Homo sapiens: one gene and its partner. The protein of the gene in region 1 purifies or fractionates together with the protein of each later gene. This does not show direct contact. Each region holds a gene or a part of one and is shown on either strand. Other genes may lie near its edges. The genes, in order: ZFAND4 and A2ML1.

Region 1 (3,914 bases):
CGCTGACCATTGCTCTAAGGCATTCTGTTCCATTCTTGCCTTGTGGAAGCAGCAGAATGAACCTAGGTAATAGCCGGGGGAAGTGCTGAGGATAGAAATGTCAGCCTCTAGAGCAGCACTGCCCCATAGAACTCTGCAGGAATGAAAATTTTCTTTATCTGCATCGTCAAAGGCAGTAGCCACTAGCCACCTGGATGGCTGACCCCATTCTAGTCTGTGTTTTTTGGTGCTCTGTCGTCTTGCTGCTGACTATTCAGCCTGTCACCATGGTGCAGTCTTGTAGGCCGCCCAGGTTGGTCTCAGCGATCCTGGAGCTACTGACTTCTTCCTTGGGCACTGTAAGATCAGACAGGGAATTACTCATACCCAGAGTCAAAGATTTTGTTCAGCTCCCACAGGTCAACCATTTGCCCAAGTCTGCTGTGAGAGTGACGTGATGACAGATGAGGGCACTTGCTAGTTGGCCACTCCTTTCCCCTATTCATTTTATGCATCTTCCTTCTGTCCGTAGGTTATTTGTGCACATAGTTTCTTGCTGTAGTACCCAATGTCGGTCAGAGTCAGCATTTGTTAAATACGATGATTTTCTTTTGGAACAACTAAATCTACTCATCAATCAGTAGGATTGGTTTCAGGGGATTCAGGAGACAACAGGTTTAGAAAATACGCAAGCTGCTATTTTGAGAGGCTTGAAAGGGAGAGAGAACTTACGTTAAAAAAAAGTTCCTATGGTAACAACTTTTAATGCTATTTTATTCAGTCTCCATGGTCTATCAGATAGGTAATGTAGTAACACTAATTTTACAGATAAAGCTAAAATCTGGAAGCAATGTGGAATAATGGAACAAGGTTGGATTTTTGTATTGTGTCCTAGTTTAAATATGGCTTTCCGACATAGAGCTGTTTGATTATAGGTAAATTGTTCTACTTTAATTGGCTTTTGTTTACTCCTTTGTAGACGAGGGATTTCACTACCAACTTTGCAGGATTGTGATGGGGAGAGAATACGTAAAGACCCTTATCAACTATCTGGCACTTGAAGAATGGCAGATGATAATGATGATGATGTTGTAAAGAATGAATGACTTGGCCAGGTAATGGAGCTTCTGGTATTGGGAGGCAAGGCTTTAAACACACCTGCCTGACTCCACGGTCCATGCTGTCAATTCTCCAGTGTGAATGAAGTGGGCAGGCAAGGGTGAGAAACGCTAAGGTTTTTACTCAGTAAGTCTCCATCACAGGCCCTATTCTAGGCTCAGGAATGCAAAGATGATTACCATCATAGCTCTGTCCTCAAAGGTCTCCAATCTATTTAGCATTAAGCATATGTGGAGTTTCAGAAGGAACCAACGGCGAGACTGGTGAATCAATGCCCAGTGCCTCACCATACTCCCCCAGTGTATGCTCAATAGTTCGTTGAACTGTGGAGATAAGTTGGTGGGTAGGGTCTCAGAAGAATGAGAGAGGACAGGAGACACAGATTAGATGTTTAGTTTCATATTAGACTGGCTCCTCTGAGCCAGAAGTCGAGGATGAGTGAACCCGCAGTGGGAGTGAGATGACATTCTTTGTCAGCTGAGTAACCCACTTAGTGAAGGAGGTTCACGGAGTTGGAAAATCGGTAGGGGGAACGGAACGAGGCAGTGGGCTCCCATGTTAGGTTGAAAGGCAGGTGTTGGCTTGAAGCCAGTTACTGTTTACACCGCAGCTCAGCAGCTTGGAAACTGGAGCAGGAGGTGTGGCTGGGCTTACCCAACGCTGGGATTTGAGCCCAGGGTGCCTACTCCATTGCCTGGCCTACAGTTCTCAGTAAATTGTATGAGGACTACAGAAAGTTATCTGTTTTCGCCTTTGTCTTCAAGCAGGCACGGTAATGCCCCCATTTTCCAGATGAGGCAATTGAGGCCAGAAACATTAGGGGACGGTGAAGCCTAAAGCAGATTTGTTAGGACAGGCCGGCCCAAACGCACCAGGAGCGCCCCTCACTCTGGAGAGGCCACCGACTGGACAGCGTCTGCCTGTATCGCCTATCTCCAGCAAATCAGGCGCCTGGAAGAGGATCCCCGGTGGGTCTCACGGAGGGCGGCTCCGGCTTCAACCCCGCCGTTCCCAGCAGGCCATGCGGCTGCCCTCCAGACGCCCGCGTGGGCACGAGTCAGGGGTCCAGTGTTGCTAGTAATAAAAGATCAACATCCGGGCCTCGTAACTCACAACCTCCAGCGAATGCCAAGAAGGCCCCAGGGCCCTGGCGCCCCGGCAACCGCCCACGTCCGGGGGCCAGGCCTGCCCCCGCCCGCGCTGATTGGAGGGCAGCGAAAGCGCCGTCCAGCGATTGGTAGGTGGTGTCACAAAGGGGCGGGGCGCGGCGGCAGCGGAGCGTTGTCGGCCAGTGCCTTCCGTGAAGTTGCTCGCCGGGTCGTTGGGCCCTGTCGACCTGTAGGCGGGCGAGCGAGCCAGCGGACAAGACTGCGGGTGAGGCTGAGCTAGCGAGCGGCCGGCAGGGGGGGCGCCCGGGCTGCGAGCCGCTGAGCCCAGCCGCGCTGCCGCCGCCGGCCGTCGTGGGGCCGGAATGGCGCAAGGCCGGAGTGGCGCGGGCGCTCGGCGCTGGGCTGCCGGGTAGAGTCCTGTCCCCGCCCCTCGCCTTGCGGCCTGACGCCGGCCGCTGCTGCCCGGGGACCGGAGCGGCGGGCCGCCTTTGCCCAGGACACACGCTCTGGCGTTTGTTCCTTTGGGCGTGACGCCAGCTTCAACGGGTACGCGGCTTTCCCGACGGGTGCTGATCTCCGAGTCGCTGTTGTCACGCGGACTGCTGTCCTCCAGATTCAGGCCGGTGGGTCTGGGGAGCCCGGATTGGTCTTGGAGGAGCAACGGCTGCGCAGGTGACTCGGTGGCCTCAAGTGTGTAGGTACCTGGATGGCGCGAGGAGATGCTGGCTCTGAAATACTTCCCAATTCCGCTTGCAGATGAACTCCGGACTAGAGTTTAGGCTACAGACAAGTTAGGCGGTTGATGTGATTCTGTAGCTCGTATTTCGAACTTTAGGGATGTTTTGATGTATCAGTAAATGTAGATCTGTGTCACAGTTTTAATGGCAGCTTCACATTCCGGATATCTTTATGTTGGGGAAAATGTTTCAAAGGTAACTGCTCTTCTGTAGCTAAGCTTCTTTAGAGCAGAGGTTGGAGAAAATTCTGAGTTACTGAAATTACGTATTCAGCGCTATTGCCTGTTTACCTTTAACTTCCATTTCATCCTTGGAGTTGTGTTTTTAGAAACTTTTCAGAAGAAATGAGAGAAATGCTTTGGGAATTGATTTTTTTTTTTTTTTTAAGTTCTAGGGTACATGTGCACAACGTGCAGGTTTGGTACATAGCTATACATGTGCCATGTTGGTTTTCTGCACCGACTAACTCGTCATTTATATTGCGTATTTCTCTTAATGCTATCCCTCCCCCCATCTCACTCCCCACGACAGGCCCCAGTGTGTGATGTTCCCCTCCCTGTGTCCAAGTGTTCTCATTGTTGAGTTCCCATCTATGAGTGAGAACATGGCGGTGTTTGGTTTTCTGTCCTTGTGACAGTTTGCTGAGAATGATGGTTTCCAGCTTCATCCATGTCCATGCAAAGGACATGAACTCATCCTTTTTTTATGGCTGCATAGTATTCCATGGTGTATATGTGCCACATATTCTTAATCCACTCTATCACTGATGGACATTTGGGTTGGTTCCAAGTCTTTGCTGTTGTGAATTGTGCCACAGTAAACATACGTGTGCATGTGTCTTTATAGTGGCATGATTTATAATCCTTTGGGTATATACCCAGTAATGGGATCGCTGGGTCAAATGGTATTTCTAGTTCTAGATCCTTGAGGAATTGCCACACTGTTTTCCACAACGGTTGAACTAATTTAC
Region 2 (3,914 bases), on another chromosome or scaffold:
CAGCTACTCGGGAGGCTGAGGCAGGAGAATGGCGTGAACCCGGGAGGCGGAGCTTGCAGTGAGCCGAGATCGCGCCATTGCACTTCAGCCTGGGCGGTAGAGCCAGACTCTGTCTCAAAAAAAAAAAAAAAGAAATTACAGTTTAGAGGTCATGCAGCCTCTGGCTCCAAGAGTCTGAACCTCCCCAAATTGCTCCTGGGGATAACATCACTGCTGTAAAACCTAAGATCAGTAATTGAGTTATTTTGCAGGCCCTGCACTCCATGGGATCAGCTGACACCACACAGACCAGTCATCTGGCCCAACCAGTTCTGCCATCTCACCCAGGAACAGAAGACATTAAGAAAATCTAACTTCGACCCTCTATGATTCCATCTCCAACCTGAGCAATCAGCACTCCCCACTTCCCAAGCCCCTACCTGCCAAATTATCTTTAAAAACTCTGATCCACGAAGGCTCAAGGATTTAAGTAATAATAAAACTCCAGTCTCCCACACAGCCGGCTCTGCGTGAATTACTCTTTTGCCATTGCAGTTCCCCTGTCTTGATAAATCGGCTCTGTCTAGGCAGCAAGCAAGGTGAATCCATTGGGTGGTTACAAAACGGGGTCTCACTATGTTGCCCAGGCTGGTCTCAAACTCTTGGGCTCAAGCAATCCTCCAGCTTCTGACTCCCAAAAGCTGGGATTATAGGCATGAGCCACTGCACTTAGACTAATTTATATTTTAGGTGACTTCTAAGTATTACCATCATAAAGAACACTGTGGGCTGGGCACGGTGGCTCATACCTGTAATCCCAGCACTTTGGGAGGCTGAGGTGGTCCCTGGAGCTCAGGAGTTCGAGACTAGCCTGGGCAACATGGTGAAACCCTGTCTCTATTAAAAATACAAAACAATTAGCCAGGAGTGTTGGTGCCTACCTGTGGTCCCAGCTACTCAGGAGGTGGAGGTGGGAGGATCGCTTGAGCCCAGGAGGTCAAAGCTGCAGTGGGCTGAGATTGTGCCACTGCACTCCAGCCTGGGTGATAAAGTGAGACTCTACTTCAAAAAAATAAAAAATAAAGAAAAGAAAAAAAAGAAAGAACAGTGTGAAAAAACTCAGTGTTACACTTGTGCATACATGCATGCTGTCCTTTTTTTCCTCATTAAGAAACATTTCCAGAGTAGGAGTTGCTGAGTGAAAGAATATGCAAATCTCAAAGGCTTTGGTGTGTATTACAAAATTGCCATGAGAAAGTTATCCACATTCTATTTTCTCTAGGACTGTGTGTGTCCCTATTTCCATACAGTCACAACAATACTGAGTAGTATTAATTTTTTTTTTTTTTGAGACAGAGTCTCGTTGTGTCACCCACGCTGGAGTAAAGTGGCATGATCTCGGCTCACTGCAACCTCCACCTCCCGGGTTCAAGCGATTCTCCTGCCTCAGCCTCCCAAGTAGCTGGGACTATAGGCACCCACCACTATGCCCAGCTGATTTTTTTTTCTTTGTATTTTTAGTAGAGACAGGGTTTCACTATGTTGGCCAGGCTGGTCTTGAACTCCTGACCTGGTGATCTGCCCACCTCAACCCCCCAAAGTGCTGGGATTACAGGCGTGAGCCACTGTGACCGGCCAAGTTTACTGCTTTTCTATTGAAACTGTTCTCATACCCGTGTTCCCAACTACACCTTAATTGAATAATAAAAGAAAATAAGGACATTAAATGAGAACAGGAATTGGAATGAGACCAGAAAAAAAGGGAGGAGTTCAAAATATGTTCTGAGAGCTTTACCATTATGAATACTCAGCTCTGGTTTTCCCCCAAAACTGGCTGAACCAGTATGGATGTTCCAGGCAGAAACAACTTTAAAGAAGTGAATAGTGGCCCTACCCTGGTCCACCACCTAACCTGGTGGTTACAGAAGGAGGAACACAGTCCTCCTGTGTTCCAGGTGCCAGGAGGTGACTGACTATAGCATCAGTCATCACTGCACACCCTACCTGGAATTAGTATATAAAGCTACGCGGAGCGATCTCTGCCCCTGACCCTGGAAAAATCTGTCTCACCCACAAAGATGTGGGCTCAGCTCCTTCTAGGAATGTTGGCCCTATCACCAGCCATTGCAGAAGAACTTCCGTGAGTGCTTGGTGTCAGAATTGGTTTATTAGGGCAGCGGCTTCTTCGCCTAACTTTCTCAAACATTTATATGGAGATGGGGAGATCAACTTTGGTTTATCTTAATTTCCTCCTCCTTTTTTCTCTTCTTTGGTTCCACTGATCCTTTACCCAGAGAGGGAGGCTGACGCATGAAGAGGAAGCTTTAAAAAAGATAAATATTAAAATGTGCCCTGTTTTCTGAAATAGGCCTAATTTCCTCCTTGGTGCTCTAGGCATGTGTGCTCGGTGAGGGCCTCCTGATGGCGGAAGTTGAAGACTGTGCACTGAGTCGTTGCCCCTCTGCTTCTTGTAGAAAATGAGGTGCATAAGGAAGGCAGGGGCTTGGTCTGTCTAATTCACTGCTACTTGCTGAGCGCTTAGGAGAGTGCTGGATTTTTCGAGTGAATGAATCATTATTGCCCTGAAATCCTTCTGCTCCTTTAATAGAAACTACCTGGTGACATTACCAGCCCGGCTAAATTTCCCCTCCGTTCAGAAGGTTTGTTTGGACCTGAGCCCTGGGTACAGTGATGTTAAATTCACGGTTACTCTGGAGACCAAGGACAAGACCCAGAAGTTGCTAGAATACTCTGGACTGAAGAAGAGGCACTTACATTGTATCTCCTTTCTTGTAAGCACAGACTCAGCCCTCACTCGAATCCCTTACTTGCCTATTCTCCTCCCTAGGCTCACTATAATCTACTTTAAGTATAATTTCTGTTATCTTTTGCCACGGCCTCTAAACCTATTTTTTCTCAACTTAACCTCAATCCCCGGCTATAACTCACCCACGGTTTCCTCGACCTAGGATTTCTCCCTTTAGTTCCTGACCTTAATTCTTCCTCGTGGTAATTTGTTTTATGTCTCTATCCTTGCTACCCCCATCTAACTCAGCTCTTTCCTTTAACTCACTGTTGGGTTGAGACCAGTTGATTCTGTTCCCCCAATCCCTTACCCCTCCCCAGAAGTCCCCTTTCTTGGTCAGGTACCACCTCCTGCTGGTGGCACAGAAGAAGTGGCCACAATCCGGGTGTCGGGAGTTGGAAATAACATCAGCTTTGAGGAGAAGAAAAAGGTTCTAATTCAGAGGCAGGGGAACGGCACCTTTGTACAGACTGACAAACCTCTCTACACCCCAGGGCAGCAAGGTAAGAGTCACATATTTGGGGTTCGACTAAAACCTGGGGAAACCGCTGTGCACAGGGGTAAAGAGGGGATTTGTGGTTTGACAGTAGGCTTTGGAAAAAAAGGAGTGCAGAGGAGAGGAAAATCTGGGGGGATTAAGTAGTGCAAGTGTTGAATACATGCTGCGCTACACAAGCAAGAGAAGTAGGTGGGGGTTGCTACTGAGTTTGTGTATCTAAAACAAAAGTACACATTTCTTCTGGAATAGAATTTGGCAAGTATAACTGGGTTGCTGGGCCTTACAACAAACTGCTTGTAAATGGCTAAGAAAGCACTGAGGGCATTTGGCTTGAGCTACTGGGGTTTTTTTTTTTTTTTTTTTTTTTTTTTGTATTTGTTCATTCGTCCTTACAGGGGCACTTCATTCTGAGATTTCAAAGTCAGGCACCCTGAAAAGAAACTATGTTTGGGTTTTTTTTATTTTTTTATTTAAAATTTTTGTGGGTACATAGCTGGTGTATATATATTTATGGGGTAGATGAGATATTTTTATACACACACACAATGTGTAATCATTACATCAGGGTACATGTGTATCCATCACCTCAAGCATTTATCATTTCCTTGTATTACAAACAATCCAATTATA

Evidence for each region.
Region 2: the proteins of ZFAND4 (region 1) and A2ML1 purify together in Homo sapiens (affinity purification with mass spectrometry; 2 studies listed by BioGRID and IntAct, with this or other methods). This does not show direct contact.

Annotation. Positions count from the first base shown.
Region 1 is NC_000010.11:45,671,237-45,675,150, reverse strand, and holds the start of ZFAND4 (AN1-type zinc finger protein 4), read left to right. Parts: upstream 1-2,378; 5' UTR 2,379-2,901; exon of another isoform or gene 2,902-3,088; coding exon of another isoform or gene 3,089-3,139; intron 3,140-3,914.
Region 2 is NC_000012.12:8,820,595-8,824,508, forward strand, and holds the start of A2ML1 (alpha-2-macroglobulin-like protein 1 isoform 1 precursor), read left to right. Parts: upstream 1-2,026; 5' UTR 2,027-2,057; coding exon 2,058-2,119; intron 2,120-2,587; coding exon 2,588-2,771; intron 2,772-3,125; coding exon 3,126-3,288; intron 3,289-3,914. UniProt on the Homo sapiens protein: Is able to inhibit all four classes of proteinases by a unique 'trapping' mechanism. This protein has a peptide stretch, called the 'bait region' which contains specific cleavage sites for different proteinases.